Linked DNA regions of Homo sapiens. The protein of the gene in region 2 purifies or fractionates together with the protein of the main gene of each other region. This does not show direct contact. Each region holds a gene or a part of one and is shown on either strand. Other genes may lie near its edges. The genes, in order: MACO1, PLAC9 and CUEDC1.

Region 1 (3,652 bases), on a different chromosome or scaffold from region 2:
CTACAAGATAGGCAAAGTACTGATTTTAGTACTCAGCTATTTATTTGGTTTTTAAAAGTGTTGGGTGGGTGCGGTGGCTCATGCCTATAATCCCAGTACTTTGAGAGGTCAAGGTGAGTGGCTCACTTGAGCCCAGGAGTTCAAGACCAGCCTATACAACACGGCGAGACTCCATCTTTATAAAAACGCAAAAACGCAAAAAAAAAAAAAAAAAAAAAAAGCCAGGCATGGTAGTATATGCCTTTGGTCCCAGCTACTCGGTCAGCTGAAGTGTAAGGATCTCTTGAACCCAGGAGATGAAGGATACAGTGAGCTGTGATCTCGCTGCTGGACTCCAGCCTGGGCGACAGAATGAGACCCTGTCTCAAAAAAAAAAAAAAAAGTGTTTTGAAGATGAACAACGTAACAATATGATTCAAAAACAGAATGAGATTATTTCTAGCCACTCCTCTGTGCTGAGTGGGAGATCGGTCCTAAACAGCTCAAACTCATCAGTGATATGAACAGATATATGAAAGTGGAGTAGTCACACCATTTTAATCACTAAATGCAAAAGCTCTGAAAAAGAGAAGGCAACAGAGGAGATGGGGTGAGGGATACATTATTTTTGGTGCCACAATCCCATGACTCAAAGTGGGCATATCATCCTTAAAGGCAGCAGAGAAAAAAATATAAAGCAATCAAGGTCAGTACTATGACTGTCTTCAAAGGCCAGGGAAGACAAGTGCCTTGGAAGGCTCATCAGCTGAGACAATTTGATGTCGGTTAAATGTCAAATTAAAGATACAGAGCCTCAATATTCTCTAAAAGTTGATTAACTTTTTTCAAGCTTCCATTGCCAGGATGCAAGGTGAGAGGCTTTGAAAAGTCACTACTTAAGCATCTGAAGAAATCCACAGTGGAAAAAGTCTAACAAGGATATGTGTATCTACTGTTGTATGTACCATCCTACTTATGCAGCTTGCTGGACAGCCAACTTCTTTTTCTTCTGGACTTAATTCTTGAGCAAGAGCCAAGTAAAATAATTATGCCCAAATCTAGTAAGCCTGGGGATAAACTAATCAGTATATCTGAAGAGCACACTAAATTTTATGAAGAAAAGTAACCTAATTACAGTATTTCACTTAACTATGTTTGTGAAATTTCTACTTGCCCTCCAAACTCCACAAGATGGTAGCCTAGAAACAGATAAAACAAAGTGCACTTTATATACATAAAACCCCAAAGGGTTAACAGTATCAGTGGGGAGATCTGGGAGAAATGGCCAAAGAAAAAGATTCTAGGAACATAAATGCTTACAGAACATGGACTGGGTCCATGAGATATATACAAGCATATAACTAGTAAGAAAATGTAAATAATTATTTGTTAAACCTACCATTAAGATCAATCTCTAAATCTAGTGAGGTTCAAGAGAGGCCATGAGGAATCGATGTGAAGAAAAAGGAGACTATCAATGATAAAACAGGAAGCTTTTAAGCAAATAATGTGAAGTGAATCACGTTCTCTCCTGTTCCCCTCCTCAACCCAGCAGCAATTTAAAGGGATTTTCAAAACACCTAATGAAACTAAACTGCCAAGACTGCTCAGACAGGAAGAATCATAATGAAAGTTGGAGGAAAGTGCTTTTTCATCCCAGTGTGGCCGATTTTTAAAGTGTATTTTGTGAAAACCACAAATAGAAGAGTTTAGCTAATAAACACTTCACTGCACAGGTTAGTGAAAACATTTCAATTTCTCCTTCCCCAACACTCCTCTAAAACAATACAGAATCTATCACTTTCGTGCCAGGTCCAGGATTGTTAAAGTTAAAGCCTACCAAGATTACCAAAATGCTTTTAGGCTATGAGATTGCAACACAGGTATCTGGGGTTTCAGTTGCAGAACACATGTACAATCAAGGCAGCCAAGGGTCATGACAGCCTGCAGTGACTTTAATAAGCATAGCCCAAAGGAGTCTAAAACTAGGCTTAGAAAACATCATTAAGGAGGCAGAAAAAGCAGTCAAATGAAACCTCTGGAGATCAGATGTAGACAAGGGTCTGAAAAAGGAAATTGGGAAGTTGAGAAGAATGCAAAATTTAATCACTTTAAAAAGTCACTTTTGAGGAGCCCCAAGGACCAGAGAATTTTTCTCTGAAATAAAAATGGGAAATAATAACATATACACCAGTGCTGAGTTCTTAGTCCTAGTTTTAAGGCATTAAGCTGCAAAAATATGACAGTCAGGTACAATACTGCACTGCCTAAGCTTCACACAGCACTACAAGCAGAATCCAGTACATGAAGACAGGAAGCAGTCTTAAATACACAGTGAAAGGGTACTTCCTTCAGCCACCAGTAACACAGATATAAAATCATTCCCAGAAGCTTAAAACATATACCTTACTTAAAATTCGTATTATATTTACTTGCATAAATAACCATTTAACTGTAGCGATTTGGAATATATGTATACTTTAAACATAAATGTTTCTGCCTCCTTCTTCTACTTACCACATCTTATCTCCTCATTTTTATATTATAAAGTCAGTAATTCTCTGAGGGAAGGGAGTGGAAAGTATGGCAGGGTGAGAGGTAGGGGTAAACCATACAGAATCCCCTTAAGGCTTTTAAAAACTACATAGTACCCTAACCTCACCTCACCTGGAAAATCACTGCCTGCAATGAGATATTACTATCGGGAGTGTCTGGTGCACATGTGTCTAGGCAGACACAAGGAGAGAACCCAGCCCAGAAAACCAAAGGACCTTAGAAATATAAGAGTTAGGTACTTAATAACTTATGTTCATAATTTTTAAAGTACTTTCATATCTATCTCATTTGAGATAGAAAAGACTCCCTCATATAGTGGCAACTGTCTACTTTATCATAAAATAGCACAGAGCAAAATACAGCTGTTAATGTGTCAGATGAACCACTAAAACAGTAAGCTAAAATTTAGCACAACAGAAATATTTTTACTTGAACAGAACTTAAAGTTCTTTGGAAACTCTAAACCACTGTACAAATTTAAGATGGTATTACTACGGCCTACTAGACTGTAAACTCCTTGAAGACAATGAGCCATGTGTTATCCTGTATCCTCCGCAATTCCCTGAACAACGTAGGCACTTCATGAATGAAATGGACTAGCTTATATTCATTTATTAATTTACTCACTCAACATTTATTGAACACTGAATGTCGACTCTGTCAGGCTCTGGGCTGGGTCAGATTTTTTTAAAACTACATCGAACTTTAGCCCCTAGTAAGATGAAAAGATCACTATTCCTATTTCCTTTCTCCTATTTTTAATTATTAACTGGACTAAAATATTTCTATAGCATGTTTCACTTTTCAAATGATGTTTTATATGTATAAATGCAGATTACATTAACATAATGTCTAAAATTAATTTTCCTTGCATCTCACCCCGAAACAGAATTCCAAGACAGCCATGATACTCACAATAAATGATATCATTTGACAGTCACCTCAGTAACAGTTGTTGGACTGCAGCCCATGATTTAAAAGTGAGTCCACAACAGGATTTTTTAAAGCAAGACCAAACAGCAACTGACCCTTTGTTTTGGCTACTCAACTTTTGTTTACAGTTGCACCAAATCTTACAGTATTTCCTGCCTCCTTAAAAAATTAACCACACGTTAAA
Region 2 (3,652 bases):
GCCAAGAAGAGGGCCAATGAATTGGGAGAAATGGGGGCTGAAGAGACTGGAGGTCTTAGGAATCACAGGAGGAACAAGAGGTAAAGAATGTTGCAATTTTAGCCAGGCGCGGTGGCTCACGCCTGTAATCCCAGCACTTTGGGAGGCCGAGGCGGGCAGATCATGAGGTCAGGAGATCGAGACCATCCTGGCTAACACGGTGAAACCCCGTCTCTACTAAAAATACAAAAAAATTAGCCGGGCGTGGCGGTGGGCACCTGTAGTCCCAGCTACTAGGGAGGCTGAGGCAGGAGAATGGCGTGAACCCGGGAGGCAGAGCTTGCAGTGAGTGGAGATCGCGCCACTGCACTCCAGCCTGGGTGACAGAGCTAGACTCCGTCTCAAAAAAAAAAAAAAAAAAGGAATATTGCAATTTAACTTTTAGAGGTCGAGCAGCTTCAGAGAGTGACAATATTAAGGCTGTGGCCATGGATGCGGGCATCCAAAGCTCAATAGGGGGAGTTATGGAACTTGATCTCTCTACGTGCAATGCTTGTAGCTGTAAGGCCTTGGTATTGGATGGGTTGGCCAAGGGGCCATCTGCAGTTGTCTAGAAGTGGGGCAGGTCTTGAGGTAGGACAGAGCTGATGATGGATGTGTAACTCTGAGAGGCTGAGTGATTTCCCCAAGGTCACACCATCTGCAAATGCCTGGACCTCAGGCACCCTGACCTCCTGTTCTCATCTCAGCAAGGTGGGGACCCCCTGCCCTGTGATTTTCTGATTCCAACTCTATCTAGCTCTCAGCACTTCCACTCAGAGATGAGAACAGGACCAGAGACAAAATGTCCTTCCACTCTGAGCATCTTTTGTGGAGAACAATCTGTTTTCCAAATTATCCTTTTCATTATTTCCCTCCACTGAACTTAGAAAATACTCTTCAAAAGATAATGGTGTTATTGCTGAATCTGGGGAGGGAGGAGGACATTATAATGGCCCTTTGGTTATTTTTTTAATGCAAGTATTTTAAAGACCTATACTGAAATATTTACAGATGAAAGGCTGTGCTGTCTTGGATTTACTTCCAAAGTAAATAATCCAGGCCTCAGTGGGGATGGTGGAGAGGCATGCGTGGATGTTTAGAGCAAACAGGATGGGCTGAGAGTTGCTGATTGTTGAAGCTGGGTGATGAGCAAATGGGGGTGCATTCAGCGATTCTGTCTACTGTTGTGTGCACGATTTGAAATGTTCCATAACAAAAGCTGGCTGTCTGACGAGGTTGTCAGCAGAAAGCAGCAGCCATTGTGGGCTGCAGGCATTCATGTAAAATATTCAGAGAGAGAGAGGCCCCTGGGGGCTATGCTCCATCCTGGCCCCACATCCTGAGAAGGCCCTTGAGAGGCAGGAGCAGGTCTAGAGGAGGCTATGGGAAGGGACTCCTCTTTTTTTTTTTTTTTTTTAGACAGGGTCTCACTCTGTCACCCAGGCTGAAGTGCAGTGGCACAATCATGGCTCACTGCAACCTCTTCTTCCCGGGTTCAAGCAATTCTCCCACCTCAGCCTCCAGAGTAGCTGGGACTACAGGCACACACTACCATGCCTGGCTACGTTTTGTATTTTTTGTAGAGATAGGATTTCACTACGTTGCCCAGGCTAAGCTCAAACCCCTGGGCTTAAGTGATCCGCCTGTCTCGGCCTCCCAAAGTGCTGGGATTATAGGAGTGAACAACCGCACCCAGTCTGGGACTCCAAATTTTAACTCAATTCTCTCAGCTGAAACTGGGCTGCTCAGCTTGGAGAGGAAAAGCTCTGAGGGGGCCTCTGTTGTCACCCACAGAGTGGCCGTCCTAGGGGAGGGCCTGTTGTCATGAGTCTGTGGATACACATACCCCCCTGCTGGCTCTGTCCAGAGGCCTTTGGCCAAGCCTTTTCTCTGAGGCTCACCTGCCCTCTCCCAGACCCTAGCCACTCTCCCGTGTAAGGCTCAGGCCAGGGGGATGCAGTGTGACCCTGCCAGCCAAATGGGAGTCTGGCTGCTTTGGAAGTCAGAACAACCAGAGCCTGCTCCCCTCCACTGGCCTAAACCACCCTGTTCTCTACGTGTCTGTGATGAGGTCTAACTTGGCTCCAAAACCCCTCCAGGGAAAAGGCTGGGCTGAGGTCGCTCCCAACATGGCTCAGCACTAATCCTTCACATCTGGACAAAACTGTGCTTTGTGCACCCTGGAGCAACTGTCCGTGAGCTCATCGGGGCCTCCACAGAGTGCATCTGAGAGAGCAAGCTTGGAGCAGGGCCTGACATTGTACTGCCAGCATCCTCACCACAGCGCTGACTTGAACGCATCATGGTAGAAAACATGCTGGAGACCCCTTTTCTCAGCCTGGTTCAGCCACTAATGATTGTGGGATTGTGAGAAAGTTTCTTCTGCTCCCTGAGCCTCTGCTGCCTCTTACATAAAATGGGGTAGGGTAGGCCTGAGGCCCTGACTCCCCCGTGTAGCGCATCCTTAATTCTTCTGTCTTTTGGAGGCTGCAGAGAGGCCTCAAGAATTAGCTAGACGAGCTGGGCTCGGTGGTTCACACCTGTAATCCCAGAGCTTTAGGAGGCTGAGGCAAGAGGATCGCTTGAAGCCAGAAGTTTGAGGTCACTCTGGGCAACATAGTGAGACTCTGTCTCTACAAAAATAAATAAATAAATAAATAAATAAATAAATAAAATAAAAATTAAAAAAAAATTAGCCAGGATTGGTGGTATATACTTGTAGTCTCAGGTATTTGGAAAGCTGAGGCGGGAGAATCGCTTGAGCCCAGGAGTTTGAGACTACAGTCAGCTACGATTGCACCACTGCACTGCAGCCAGGGTGACAGTGAAAGACTGTGTCTTGTAAGAAAATAAATAAATGAATAAAAAATAGTAGACACGCACATGCACCACAGGGCTGTCAGTGGCTCAGACAAGGGGAGTGGAAAAGACTGAAGGATTATGATGATTAACCCTGAGCAGCCAAGGCTGTGGCTCCTCAGGGCTCCCTTCCTTCCTTTCCTCCCGCTCTCCCAGGCCCTGCCAGTTGGGAAATGGACCTCCTTGGATGCTGCGTTGTTTTCTCTGGCCCGGCTCCTGCTAGGGGCCTGATGTGCACCCTGGATGGTGGCCATGGGTGGGGCATCCTGTGCTGGTGAGAACACGCTGCTGTGGAGCCCGGAGGCCCCAGAGGAGGGCTCGGCTGGGCTGGCTGCCCCAGTTAAAGAGACGTGGCCCCTGGGTCCCATCCTCTGAGGCGGAAGTACGGGTGCTTCTACTTACAGGCCTTATGGGGAGACCTTTTGTATCTGGACCCAAACAGTAAGAAAGGGCCACAACACAGATGATTTCTGCATGCTGGGGGTTGAGAAATGTTTTCTCAGTGGCATCTGAAAGGTGCCGCTGTATCTTCTGAATTGTCAAAGTCACACTCTGCTTTGAAAAGCAACCCTGGCCACTTGGGGGTTAATTATATTTGACCACATTCAACATAATAGAATAATAAATTTACCACATCCAATATTTGTATTAAAATGTATGATTCACTCAAAACCATCCACGGGTTTTGATCATTTTTGAAAGCAGCAGAAAACTATTCTTCAAGTGATTTTATAAAAAACTCCAAAATATGGGCCGGGCGTGGTGGCTCATG
Region 3 (3,652 bases), on a different chromosome or scaffold from region 2:
CAGGAGCTGCCTGCCTATGGGCCCAGGCAGAGTTCCAAAGGTGGGGGGTTGGGGAGACTGCCAAGGGAGGGGAGGGGTACCGGGAGGGGGCTCAATTTGGAGAGCAAGATTCTTAGAAAAACAGAAGTGCACACACAGCAAGGGCCTACCTAGGGGGTGGTGAAGCCTTGCAGAGGTCTATAGGACTGTGGGGGCCATGGACAAAGGAGAAAATACTACCCTACCTGCCAGACTGTCAGGGCAAATCAGACTGCAGAAAGGGTCAGAGCTTGCAGAGAGCTTTCCTTCCAGTTCACACTTAAAGCATATACAGTTGACTCTCAAATAACAAGAGTTTGAACTGCGTGGGTCCACTTATAGGTAGATTTTCTTCCACCTCCACCACCCCTGAGACAGCAAAACCAACCCCTCCTGTCCCTCCTCCTCAGCCTACTCAATGTGAGAAGATGAGGATGAAGCCCTTTACGATGATCTACTTCCACTTAATGAGTAGAAAATATATTTTGTCTTGCTTATGATTTTCTTAACATTTTCTTGTCTCTAGCTTACTTTATTGTAGGAATACAGTATATGATACATACAACACACAAAATATATGTTAGTCGACTGTTTATGTTAAGGCTTGAGTTAAGGCTTGAGGTCAACGATAGGCTATTAGCAGTCAATTTCTGGGAAAATCAAAAGTTATATTAAAAAGTGGATTTTTGACTGCAAGGGGAGGATTCACTGCCCCTAACCCCTGCATTGTTCAATGGTCAACTGTATCTGCAGACACACACATACATACGCATACTCTCACTCTCTCTCTCTCCTTCTTTCTACAAAGAGGATCCATATTTTCCAATATTCCTTCCACCACCTACTCCAAGCAGATCAAAGGAGTGGTCTCCCAAGGAGAGAGACAATAGAAAACTGTACAAAGACAGCAGCAACACGTACTCATTCAACAAACACTCCCTGAGTGCTTGCTATGTGCGTGGATTGTCCTGGGTGCTGCAGATGACACAGGGATGAGCCAGATGTCTTGGCCAACAGAGCTTTTCCACCTCTAGGGGAAGTCTCAGCAGCACCCACTAAGGAGGAAAAGCAAGGAGACTTTGCCCTGCAGGATGGCTGATGAACAAGGGTAATAATAATGCCACAGCACAAAGTTTGTGAGGATTAGAAGAGATGACACATCGGGCCAGGTGCAGTGGCTCATGCCTGTAATCCCAATACTTTGGGAGGCCGAGGCGGGCAGATCACCTGAGGTCAGGAGTTCGAGACCAGCCTGGCCAACATGGTGAAACCCCATCTCTACTAAAACTACAAAATTAGCCGGTCATGATGGCACATGCATGTAGTCCCAGCTACTCGAGAGGCTGAGGCAGGAGAATCGCTTGAACCTGGGAGGTGGAGGTTGCAGTGAACCAAGATCGCGCCATTGCACTCCAGCCTGGGCGACAGAGCAAGACTCTGTCTCAAAAAAACAAAAAAACAAACAAAAAAAGAAGATATGATACATCTAAAGCACTTAGGATGATGCCTGGCACGGGTCGGGACTCAATAAAGAGTGGAGTTAAATCCTGCTGGGTCCTGGTCTTGTCCATGGCTGCATGTCCCAGATGGCCCTGTGGACAACACCCCTCTGATTAACAGGCTCTGTGTGCCTCATCCTTCTGCACCAAGCACCTCAGGCTCTGCTGATACTGGGTGGCCAGATGTCCACTGAACTCGGGTGGGACTGGAAAGGACTCACAACCTCCAGCAGGTGGGTACTGATGCAGTACGCAGGTCCCCTCTCTCCAGCCACTTCCCTGGAGAGACTGCTTGGCTATGGCTCACTACTGTTTCCATCAGGCCACAGTCAGAGGGATTTAACTGGCAAGTCTGATTCCTCACTCCCTTTCCGTGGCTATGCTCCCAGGATACAGCCGCACTCTTTTTCTTTTCTTTTTTTTTTTTTTTTTTTTTTTGAGACGGAGCCTTGTTCTGTCACCCAGGCTGGAGTGCAGTGGCATGATCTCGGCTCACTGCAACCTCTGCCTCCCGGGTTCAGGCGATTCTCCTGCCTCAGCCTCCCGAGTAGCTGGGACTACAGGTGCGCACCACCACGCCTGGCTAATTTTTGTATTTTTAGTAGAGATGGGGTTTCACCATATTGGCCAGGCTGGTCTCGAACTCCTGAACTCATGATCCACCTGCCTCGGCCTCCCAAAGTGCTGGGATTACAGGCATGAGCCACCTCGCCCGGCCCCAGCCGCACTCTTTTTCTCAGCGTCAGGGCTTTGTCAACCTCATTGATCTCCTCTCACTCTAGGACCCTGACAGATGGTCCTGCTGCCAGTTCCCTAGCCAGTGAGGCACTATTTCACCTCCCAGACTCTGCACAAGCTGTTCCCTTTGCCTGCACACCCTTCCCCCGGCTTCACTCTTCCTTTGGGTCTCAGCTTAGGGTTTCGGCTTAGCCATCGCTTCCTCTGGGAAGTCACTCCTTTCTGCTGCTTCCACGTCTCCATCGAGCACTTACCACTCTGGCCGTCAGTACCCGACTCGCGCTTCTAGTCCACACTGGACTGTGAGCTCCAGGAGGGCAGAAATTTGGTCTGACTTGGCCACTAGCGGACTCTACGCCTGATGTGGAGTTCAGTATGTTGGGGTGGGGCCCAGGCACCTGCATTTTTAACAAGCACCTTGATTCTGATGCCTCCTGACTCAGGGTCTAGTGCCACGTCTCGCACACCACTGAGTGGGCGCTCAGTGTTTGTTGAATGACTGCATGATTTCTGCCCATAAAATAAGGTGACTGACGGATGGTACTTTTCCCTAGGGGAAGTAAGGCTGCTTGCTAATTAGAACCCAGATAGCGGAGTAACCCAGGTCCTCTTAGAGGTTCCAGTGGTGGTTGGAATTACCCGGGCCGTGCCCCTACCTCCGGGGGGATGCTGTCCTCCAGTGGTGGTTGGAATTACCCGGGCTGCGCCCCTACCTCCGGGGGGATGCTGTCCTCCGAGTCGGAGCTGTCCTCATAGACGCCGCCGCTGCTGCCACCGCCCTCCAGGTTCATCTGCAGCAGCTGGTCGATGGTGGCGTCCACAGCGCCGCTGTTGGCGCGCAGCACGCATTCGATGATGTCGTAATCCATGTTGGGGAACATGGTCTTGAAGTCGTCCATGGCCTGGTTGAACTCCAGGCGGCGCACCTGGCGGGCAGGCCGGCTGTTGTTGAGCTCCTGGGGGGCGGCCGTGCCTCCCCCGCCCCCGCGTGCCCCGGCGGTGCCACCCCCGCCGCTGCCGCTGCTGCTCCGGCGGAACAGGCTGGTCATTTTGCGGAGCCGCTTGGGGAAAATGTTTCTAGCCGGCCGCAAAGCCCCTTCCCCAGGGTCTTTCCGCCGTCAGCCGCTTACTTGCCCTGCGGTCTCGGGCAGCTCACTCCTGCGCCTCCTCCTCCCCGGGTAGCCAGGCAGCAATGGGCTGCCAAGAGCTCCGGGTTAGGAGAGTACGGGCGCGGGGCCCCAGGCAGCCCTTGGAGAGCGGTCCTCGCGGGGCGGTGGCATGCGGGACCGGGCCGTGCTGGGGCTGGGCGGCCGGTCATCCACACCCCCGGTGCATCCTGGCACCGGTTTCACGGATGGTCCCACCTGAAACCGAAAGAGATGGAGTCAGGGCCGAGG

What was found.
Region 1: the proteins of PLAC9 (region 2) and MACO1 purify together in Homo sapiens (affinity purification with mass spectrometry; one large-scale study listed by BioGRID and IntAct). This does not show direct contact.
Region 3: the proteins of PLAC9 (region 2) and CUEDC1 purify together in Homo sapiens (affinity purification with mass spectrometry; one large-scale study listed by BioGRID and IntAct). This does not show direct contact.

What each region holds. Positions count from the first base shown.
Region 1 is NC_000001.11:25,433,867-25,437,518, reverse strand, and holds part of MACO1 (macoilin), read right to left. Parts: intron 1-3,652. UniProt on the Homo sapiens protein: Plays a role in the regulation of neuronal activity.
Region 2 is NC_000010.11:80,135,700-80,139,351, reverse strand, and holds part of PLAC9 (placenta-specific protein 9 isoform 1 precursor), read right to left. Parts: intron 1-3,652.
Region 3 is NC_000017.11:57,882,261-57,885,912, forward strand, and holds part of CUEDC1 (CUE domain-containing protein 1), read right to left. Parts: intron 3,620-3,652; 5' UTR 3,305-3,619; coding exon 2,969-3,304; exon of another isoform or gene 2,912-2,968; intron 1-2,911.